Regions from separate parts of the Homo sapiens genome. Here regions 2 and 3 are each linked to region 1. The links come from fine-mapping of genetic effects on gene expression. A gene starts in region 1. Each other region holds a variant in brackets. All regions are shown on one strand. Distances are between the middles of the regions.

Region 1 (2,755 bases):
TTCTTGGAGGACGCACGCCGAACTCAGGGTAGTGAGAAGAGTTTGGGGGGCCCTGGGGCGCAGGGAGAAGACCCCACACTCCACGGCCACCAGCTCCCTTCCGGAGACGGCGCTCGGACGTCGCGGGTCACGGGCGGGGAATTTAGCCCAGGTGCTCGTTGGGCCGCGAGCGGCCGCTGGGCCTGGATTCCCAGGCTCGCTGTGCAGACTCCAACCTTGAGACGTCAGGACGGCGTGGGCTCCGGGCCGCCGCGCAAGCCCAGGACCCCGAGTCGCGGGCCCCCACGCCGCAGCGCGCCTCCCTCCTCGAGACCCGGGGCTCCGACCCAACACAGGGCTTCTCAAATGCCCCGGCGAGATCCAGGCAGCAAGAGGGAACCTTTTTTTTTTTTTTCAATGTGTAAGAATGTTTTGCTTCTTTTAGGGCACAGCACTGCTGCAACTTGCAGCACAGAGGGCCCTTCCCTGCGCACCCACAGCGGTCGCCGCCTCTCCGGCACGGTCTCCCGGATCTGGATTTGGGGAGCGCAAGTGCCCCCTGTGGCCGGCCCGCGCCTGACCCCGCGGGCCTGAGAAGGCAGAAGCGGCCGGTGCGGGGCACCAGGAGGAAGTTGGAGCCCGGGGGCCGGGAAGGGGGCTGGTTGGCGCCGCTGGCTGGGCGGGGCCCCATGGGACCGGGGCCACCCGGGGCTCGCGTTCCCCCACGTGGCCGGCTGCCCGGTACCCCACGTGGAAGGGGCGGAGGAGGATGAAGGGCCAGGGGAGCAGCGGACCCCGAGCCACCGCGACAGGACCTCGGCCCCTGCCACCGAGGCCCCCGCGCCTCCCGAGGGCCTCCCGGGCGGGGCCGGGCTAGGGAGTGCCCGCCGCGCCCGGCCCCTGGCCCTCCCGCCCGCCGCGCTTGTGTGCACTTTCGCGGAGCCACTAATCCCCCGAGAGAGCCGATTTGTAGTGAGGAGTATCTGAAGGGGGCGAGGCCGGCCCATGTGGGGTTGTGTCATTGGTTTGCAAAAAGAGACCCCGCCTTTGCCCCCCCCCCCCAAAAACAGGAGCGAGGAGTGAGCGAGCGGCGACCCTCACCTCGCCTCCCGCCTAGCTCCTGCGCAGCCAGCGGGTACCGGGAGCTGCGGCCAGCGCCGCTTCTTTCCTTTCCTTTTCTCTCCGTTTTCCTTCTCCTTCCCCGGAGGAGAAAACAAATAAAGAAGAGCAAATAGCCGGGAGGCGCTCGGCATCCAGGACGTTCCCTCCCCCGATCCAAGTTGGAATTAGCATCCTCTCGGGGGTGAGCGCGGCGCGGGGCGGGCCCGGGCCGGGGACCCCCAGCGCAGCCCCCTCTCGGCGGGCGGGAGGGCGCGGGGCCGGGACGCGGGGGGAATTGGGAACCGGGTGGGCGGAGGAAGGGGGTGGGGTGGGTGGGGAAGTAGGAAGAGGCTCGGCGGCGAGGGGAGGAGGTGGAAGGGAAGGGAGGGGTAGGGTGGGGAGGGGAGGGGAGCGGAGGGAGGGTGGGGAGGGCGGGAGGGGGAGGGGCGGGGAGCTGGAGAGATTAAGTTTTTGTGTGTGTGTCCCTGTGTGCGTGTGTCATTTTAAGGTGGCTCGGGAGCGGCCCGGAGGAGCCGGCGGCGGCCCGAGGAGCGAGGGACCGAACCGGGAGCCATGCCGCGCTGAGGGGGGGCCGCACAGCCGCCGCCACCGCCACCGCCGCCGGGTGGGGTGGGAGGGGCGGGAGACGCCGCCGCCGCCGCCTCCAGGGTGGGCGCCTTTCGCCGTGGACGCCGACCGTCCGGGACGAGGTAAGGGGGGCCCCGGGGGAGGGCTGGGGCCGCCGCCGCCCCCGCCTCACCTGCGGCCGCGGGCTGGGGGCGCCGCGCCCGCGCCTCACTGCGCCACTCAGGGAGGAGGAGGAGGAGGAGGAAGAGGGCGAAGGACGCGGAGCCGGCATCCGAGGACATCTTTGGTCCGTGCCCCCGGCCTCGTGTCCCCCCTCGGCGCCCGGGGGTGGACGCTGGCTCGGGGGTCCCCGCCCGCCCCCGCCACCGATTGCGCCCGCTGGCCGCCGTTTGCGCCAGGATTTTTGTTGTTGTGATGAGAGTTGATGAATGCGAAGTAGGCGGTCACCTTCCTTCCCATCAGGGTTGAAAAAAAAAAAAAAAGAAACCCCGAGCGCGGCGGCGTCCGGAGGGCAGCGGCGGCGGCGGCGGCGGCGTCTCGGCGACGGTTCCCTGGGCGCCCCCGGCTCCTGCTCCCTGAGCCCGGTGGGTGCGCGCCCGGGGGCCGCCGGCGACCCAGGCCGAGCGCGCGACGCGCCGCGGGGACAATACGGCCGGATCTCCGGGGAACAGGAGTCCGAGCGCGCCGGGGTGCGGCGGGCCTTGCGCCTACGAGGCGAGGGTGGGGGGGGCGCGGAGAAGAGGGGTTCCGTGGGGAAGTCGGGGCGTGAGCGGCTCTCGGTCCCCAGGGGCGCTGCCCCTGCCGGCGGGGGATCCCGCGCGGCTCCCCGGGAGCGCAAGTGAAAGACGGGAAAGGAGGCGAAGTGGAACCCTTTTGTTTTGCCGGCCCCGCATTGTTGGCTCCTCCGGGCAGCCGGGCCACATCTGCTGCCGCTGCCGCCGCCGCCACTGCCGCGCGGGGCTCGGCCCGCCAAAGTCGCGGCGGGGCGGGGGGCCTGGGCGGGCCGGGCGGCGGGCGCGGGCGGGGGCCGGGCGGGCCGGGCATTTCCTCTGCCCGGCCGCGCTCCCGCGGGCACCACTTCCTCCTC
Region 2 (2,755 bases), 170 kb after region 1:
CGGTTCAAATCTGGGCTTGGTGCTCTGGGCTGCTTTTCCACAGGCCCTCCAGGCCCTGGATCTGCAGAGTGTGAGCCCCACTGATTGAAGCATGTTCGTGCACAGACGCCATGAGGGGGATGGAGGCTGCAGGAACGGGGGAAGGCAGGCGGGGGTCCTGTGAAGTGTGAGCTCCCAGCAGTTGCATGCTGGGGTCCTCAGTTTCATGTTGCCAGTGCGTCAGAGAGCCATCTCTCACTCCGTCCCTGCCACCGTCCAGTCCTGCCTGCTGTAAAGGGTGACACTGAGGAGGAGAGGCGTGATGGTTCGTGCCTTGCTATACTAGTTGTCCTGCAGCTGTCCCTGATCAGACTGGCCTTATTCAACCTTTGTTCTAAACTACGGCAGTTGTCCTAGCCAGGCCATCGGTTAGATGGAGCTGCTGCAGGAGGAGCCATCCAGCATTGAGGTACCCCTGGAACACAGGCTGCCTGCTCGGAAATGCGCATCTTTGTCCTTCTCCTGCCTGCACCTTGGAGCCATGGCTTTAAAGATTCCTTCTGTGATCTCCAAGAGAACCAGTCGAGCATCAACACTAACCATTTTGTTTTCAAAATGCTGAAAACTGCTCTGGGAAGCTGGAGGTGCTATCGAGGGGGACCCCATGGGTTTATGAAATGACAGCCGTTGGGGAGTGGGAGACACCTCCTCATCCTGTGACATAGCTGGCGGGAGGCCCAGGCTGCATAATGCAGATGGGCGCGAGGCCCCACCAGTGGGACAGGTCCAGGTCTGATGGTCATGTGCCCTGCCTCCCGCCCAGAACACAGTAGCATGTGGCCAGTCTGCACTCGGGCCAGCCTGCAGGGAGCCATTGTGCTCATGTCACCCTTTGCAGGAGCGAGCCCAGCAATGAGGAGGCAGGACATTACTCCCTGTGACATTGAGAGCAAGTTTTTCAAACACAAAGCTCATGTTAAGAAGCCTGCAGTGCACACAAGAAGTGGGGAGAGGGGTGGGAACGGAGGACACGGGTGGTGATGGGAGGGGCATGTGGGCTTGTCAGAACACTCTGTGTTTGAAAATGTCAATAACAAGGAAGGGTTTTGTTTTGTTTTTAACAAAAATCCTGC[T/C]GTACCCAATATAAGCAGCAAGCACTGCGGTCCTCACCTGTCCTACACCGGCCATGGTGGCCCCTCGCGGGCAGTGCTCGCCTCAGGCCTCACTAAGCTTTGGGCACACGGTTTCTCTGGCAGCAGCTACCAGCGGGGATGCCAAGCCCGGACTCAGCTCAGAAGCAATGGAGGTGGCAGCGCTGGGGCGCGGGCTGTGGACTCACTCACCTGGACGCTCTGTTTCTGTACAGGTCGCACGGGGCAGGCGGTTGCAGTTCGAGCCAAGGCCTTTGGATTCAGCGTCATATTTTATGACCCCTACTTGCAGGATGGGATCGAGCGGTCCCTGGGCGTGCAGAGGGTCTACACCCTGCAGGATTTGCTGTATCAGAGCGACTGCGTCTCCTTGCACTGCAATCTCAACGAACATAACCACCACCTCATCAATGACTTTACCATAAAGCAGGTAATTTGAAAATAGATGCCATGGAAGCTTCTGTCGAAAGGTGGTAGCACTTGCTTGTGGGCACAAGAGGGACACGGAGGGCAACGGAGGTGGTTTCTGGATACACTGTTGAGCAGGGAAGAGGCCCTGCAACAAACCAGTGACAAGCCACGTGAAGCCCCTTCCTCGGGCTGAGCCAGGCTAAGCAGAGAAGGACAGGCGCTAGCCAGGACCCAGCTTCAGAAGCTTCCCAGAACCTTTAAAGAGGCCAGCAGCTCGGCACAGTCCAGCCTTTCCACCGTGTTGCTTCCTCTCAGGATCAGCAGCAACGGCCCTGGCTTCCAGCCGTCACCAACACTTCCCACTCCCTTCCCTCAAACTGCAGCACACACATTAAACCACCAGACCAACAAAACTAGCTTGCAGCTTTCTTCTTTAAACCTTGGTACAAGAGTCTTCCACCATGCCAGTGTGCCTGTAACCGGCTTTTCTTTCCTTCCACAGATGAGGCAGGGAGCATTCCTTGTGAACGCAGCCCGTGGCGGCCTGGTGGACGAGAAAGCCTTAGCACAAGCCCTCAAGGAGGGCAGGATACGAGGGGCAGCCCTCGACGTGCATGAGTCAGAGCCCTTCAGGTGCGTGTTGCCCCAGCCGCCTACCAGGAGCCCACAGGGCCCAGCTCCACACCTGACCCCCACACTTTGAACTCGAGGCCCTTTTCCCAAACAGGTCCCTGGGCAGGAAACTCCAGAGATGACATTTACAGTCTCTGTTCTTCTAAGGATTGTGCTGTATTCTAATTGTAAAAGGGCTGGAAGTTTCCCAGAGGTCATCAGGGAAAGGAGAGGCAGAAAATTGGTGGGGGTGTGGCAGTGGTTCTGGTCTTCAGACAGACAGGCATCATCTCTGCCCTGGATTACAGCAGGACAAGCCTTCAATAGAATTGGGCTTTTTGATCTACCAATTATACGGTTCTTACACAACTTTGATAATTACATTCAAAAATTCCCAGCCTTCATAAAATATCATCACAGATGTTCCTGTATCCATGCTATCTATGTAGCTACTTTTCTACATGGCCAAGAGCTCCCTTGTGCTGAGGAGGGCAGGGAGCGTATGCGACATTTCCCGCTTACTCTGTTTTTTCTACATTTTTCTAGCTTTGCTCAGGGTCCGTTGAAAGATGCCCCGAATCTCATCTGCACTCCTCACACTG
Region 3 (2,755 bases), 110 kb after region 1:
AAATGTTCAGGCTTGGATGACTATGGCAGGAAGTACATGAGGAGTGGGCCTCCAGGGACCTGCCTTTCCCTAAGGGTCTCCATGTACCGTTTTCGAATGGTGTCTGGGGTGGGGACATAAACTTGGGATCCAGGTATCCTGAGTCCTCGGACCTTTTTTCCCATTTATTTGTCTGGCTTGGGCTCTAACATGCACAATATCCCCATAAAATGTCTCAGAGCAGATTTTTAAATGGCCATTACCTTGTCAAGAATTCTCCAGTGGGATTTCATGTAAAATTAGGATCCCTGATGGTAGCTCACGATGAGCTGTAATTCTCCACATAGGTGACTGTATTCATGGGCACCATCCACCCTCCTCATCCAGATGTCTCCCTCTCCAGAGGACTTTGGTGCAGGAGGCCTGTGAGGACCCCAGTTCATTATGACAAGGTTGCAGTTCTCTAGAAGATTCTCATCAGGAGCCTTGTCTACTCCTCCCCAGCAACCTCTTTCCACTAACTTATATTTTAGCTATAGCCTGGAACATTCTGAGCTATGATGAGTGTTAAAATGGGGTGGTGTACTCGTCAGAGACCTGGAGACCGGGACTGGAAGCCACTGTGAAACAGGTGAAATGATTCAAGAAGACAGCTGAACCCCAGCGACACCCCATAACAGAAACAAAAGAACTCTTGTGAGCCGCACCCCCACCCTTCCTTTTCCCGGCATTTGATAGGCAAAGATGAATTTGTGTGACACGGGAGTGTCCCACCCTCCTCCTCCCCATCAGACTCTGCGAGACGCCCGCTCTCCCTTTGGGTGCAGTCATGGATACCAAACAAAGCCTTCATCCCTCTGGGTTTCCGTTACGTAGCCGTCTTCCACGTGAAAACCGTGTTAAGCAAAATGAATAGCTGCAAGCTATTTTATTTCATGTTAAATAACTGTGGATAAGACTAAGATTTTTCTCTTTATGACTCAGGTTGAAAAGATAAGGTCTGGGAAGCGGTGTCTTTGAATCTAGAGATTTTCTGGAGTTAGGGATGTCTGATTTCTACATATCATTTCCACGACCTGTCGCAGGAGACAGGGTACCGGTGCCCCATGATGCTGCAGAGCGGCTTTTGGTGATAGAGACGCATTATGGAATGTGTATACTTGTAAGGACCCAGGCATAGAGTATCTGCCCTCATAAAGCAAACATAATCCTCCACTCCTGAGGTCTGAGTTGGCTCTCCTGGATGCCAGCCTTTGCATGATGAGTGATGCCTTAGTTGAAATGAAGGATGGGCCACCCCAGGTGCCTGGAGCACTTTTATCCCAGTGCATGCCCAAACTACTGGTGTCCTAAACAGTTGGCCCC[A/T]CAGACGTGGGGTTTGGGGAGCTGAGCTGTGCACTGGGGCGGTGGCTACACTGGCCTGGTCACGTCAGGCTGGGCAGAAGAGTTGGAGCGGGGTGGCTCAAGAGTCTTGATTTGGTTTGACTCTATAACTTGGCTGGCATGGAACTTGGAAGGCTGGGTCCCCACTCCTTCAGCAGGTGGGCCCCTTTGGAGGGAGCCGTTCCTGCTTGTTTTTGAGATAATCTCTCCGGACACTTGGCAGCCCAGCCAGCGTTTGCTTTGATAGCTTATCTCTGCCCGTCCAGCTTGAACTCCCCTTTCCCACCATCTTCGACCATGCCTGCGGGTCTCCACCTCTCCCTGGCCACCATGTAGCCCTCATTCCTTGCTGAAGGTTCCACACTGAAGTGGGTTGTACAGAGGAACCTCGTCCTGGAAAGTGAAAGCAAGTCCCACTGAATGTGACTTGGAGCAAGCTTGTGAGGTATTCGTGGCATCAGAGCCATGAAGAGAAGGTGGAGAGGCGCTGCCTGGGGGAGGTGGCACCGGAGCTCAGGTGGGGGCTCCCCAGGATCCGCACGTGTGTGGGGTCTATCCAAAGGCATCCTCTGCCAAATCAGGCCAAGCATGTGCTGTATCACTCAGTGGTATCCTGCTGCTGTGACAACTGTGGCGACTTTGAAATGATGGTAAGAAAGAGTGTCCTGTGACGGTGGGGACTGAATTAGGCACATCTGTCTCCCGTAGTGGGGCATTAGTGGGCTACACCAGCCCCTCCCATTCTTCTCCAACCAGAAACTGTCAGGTACCCTGCCAGTGTGGAGAAGAGGTGGCCAGCATCTTAGAACTTGGTGAAAGGGGTGTTGTGTGTGTATGTGTGTGGTCAGGTGGACGTGTGTGTGTGTGTGTGTGTGTGTGTGTGTGTGTGTGTGTGTGTGTCTGTGGTCAGGCGGGCAAATTGAGGCCAGAGAGCACATTAATGTGCATTCTGGCCAGAATCAATTCCTGGGGAAAGTTGGAAAAATCTCCTTTCCTTTCTAAATTAGTGTCTACCAGGAAAAAAAGTTGTATATCTTAAGATCATACTTGTCTCACAGCAAACTGATCCTGGTGTTGAGTCAAATTGAGCCTGTTGATCAGGTGTGCATAGTGCTCCAGAGGCTGTCATTTGTAATGGAAAGCCTAAGGGGCATTTGCGGAGCAGCCCAGCCGGCCCCTCCCCAGCACCGTCCTCTCTGTGTGTGTTCCGTCTCTGCCAAGTTGTTTCCAATTTTCAACACTAACTGGTTGCTGTCAGCAGACGTAATGGAAAAATCATTTGTCAGGGTGGCCCCTGGCTCCCTGGGGTCGGGGACTCCACACCCTGGGCAGGGAGCCTCCCTCCTTCTTGGCCTGTACCTCCAGTCACTCCGCTGTGAAAGTGGGACCCCCA

Direction of the effects. Positions count from the first base shown, and alleles are read on the strand shown. Sizes are in standard deviations (SD) of each study's normalised expression. Not every link is listed here.
For the expression in anterior cingulate cortex of the gene that starts at base 1,546 in region 1, C is the high allele of the variant in region 2 and T is the other (small effect, 0.23 SD a copy in GTEx).

What was found.
Region 2: its variant is fine-mapped to the expression of CTBP2 in anterior cingulate cortex (GTEx, PIP 0.98).
Region 3: its variant is fine-mapped to the expression of CTBP2 in tibial nerve (GTEx, PIP 0.91).

The regions. Positions count from the first base shown.
Region 1 is chr10:125,159,354-125,162,108 of GRCh38, reverse strand. It overlaps CTBP2 (C-terminal binding protein 2), which reads left to right and starts at 1,546. Exons shown (of 11, transcript NM_001329.4): 1 at 1,546-1,790. RefSeq lists an enhancer at 166-775.
Region 2 is chr10:124,993,274-124,996,028 of GRCh38, reverse strand. CTBP2 (C-terminal binding protein 2) reads left to right here. Exons shown (of 11, transcript NM_001329.4): 7 at 1,346-1,560; 8 at 2,044-2,174; 9 at 2,700-2,755. Among named protein-coding and RNA genes, the nearest start is that of MIR4296, 38 kb to the left of the region's middle. The variant T/C (reference allele first, on the strand shown) is at 1,113.
Region 3 is chr10:125,048,554-125,051,308 of GRCh38, reverse strand. The region is part of intron 2 of CTBP2 (C-terminal binding protein 2); the gene reads left to right. Among named protein-coding and RNA genes, the nearest start is that of MIR4296, 17 kb to the right of the region's middle. RefSeq lists an enhancer at 2,736-2,755. The variant A/T (reference allele first, on the strand shown) is at 1,345.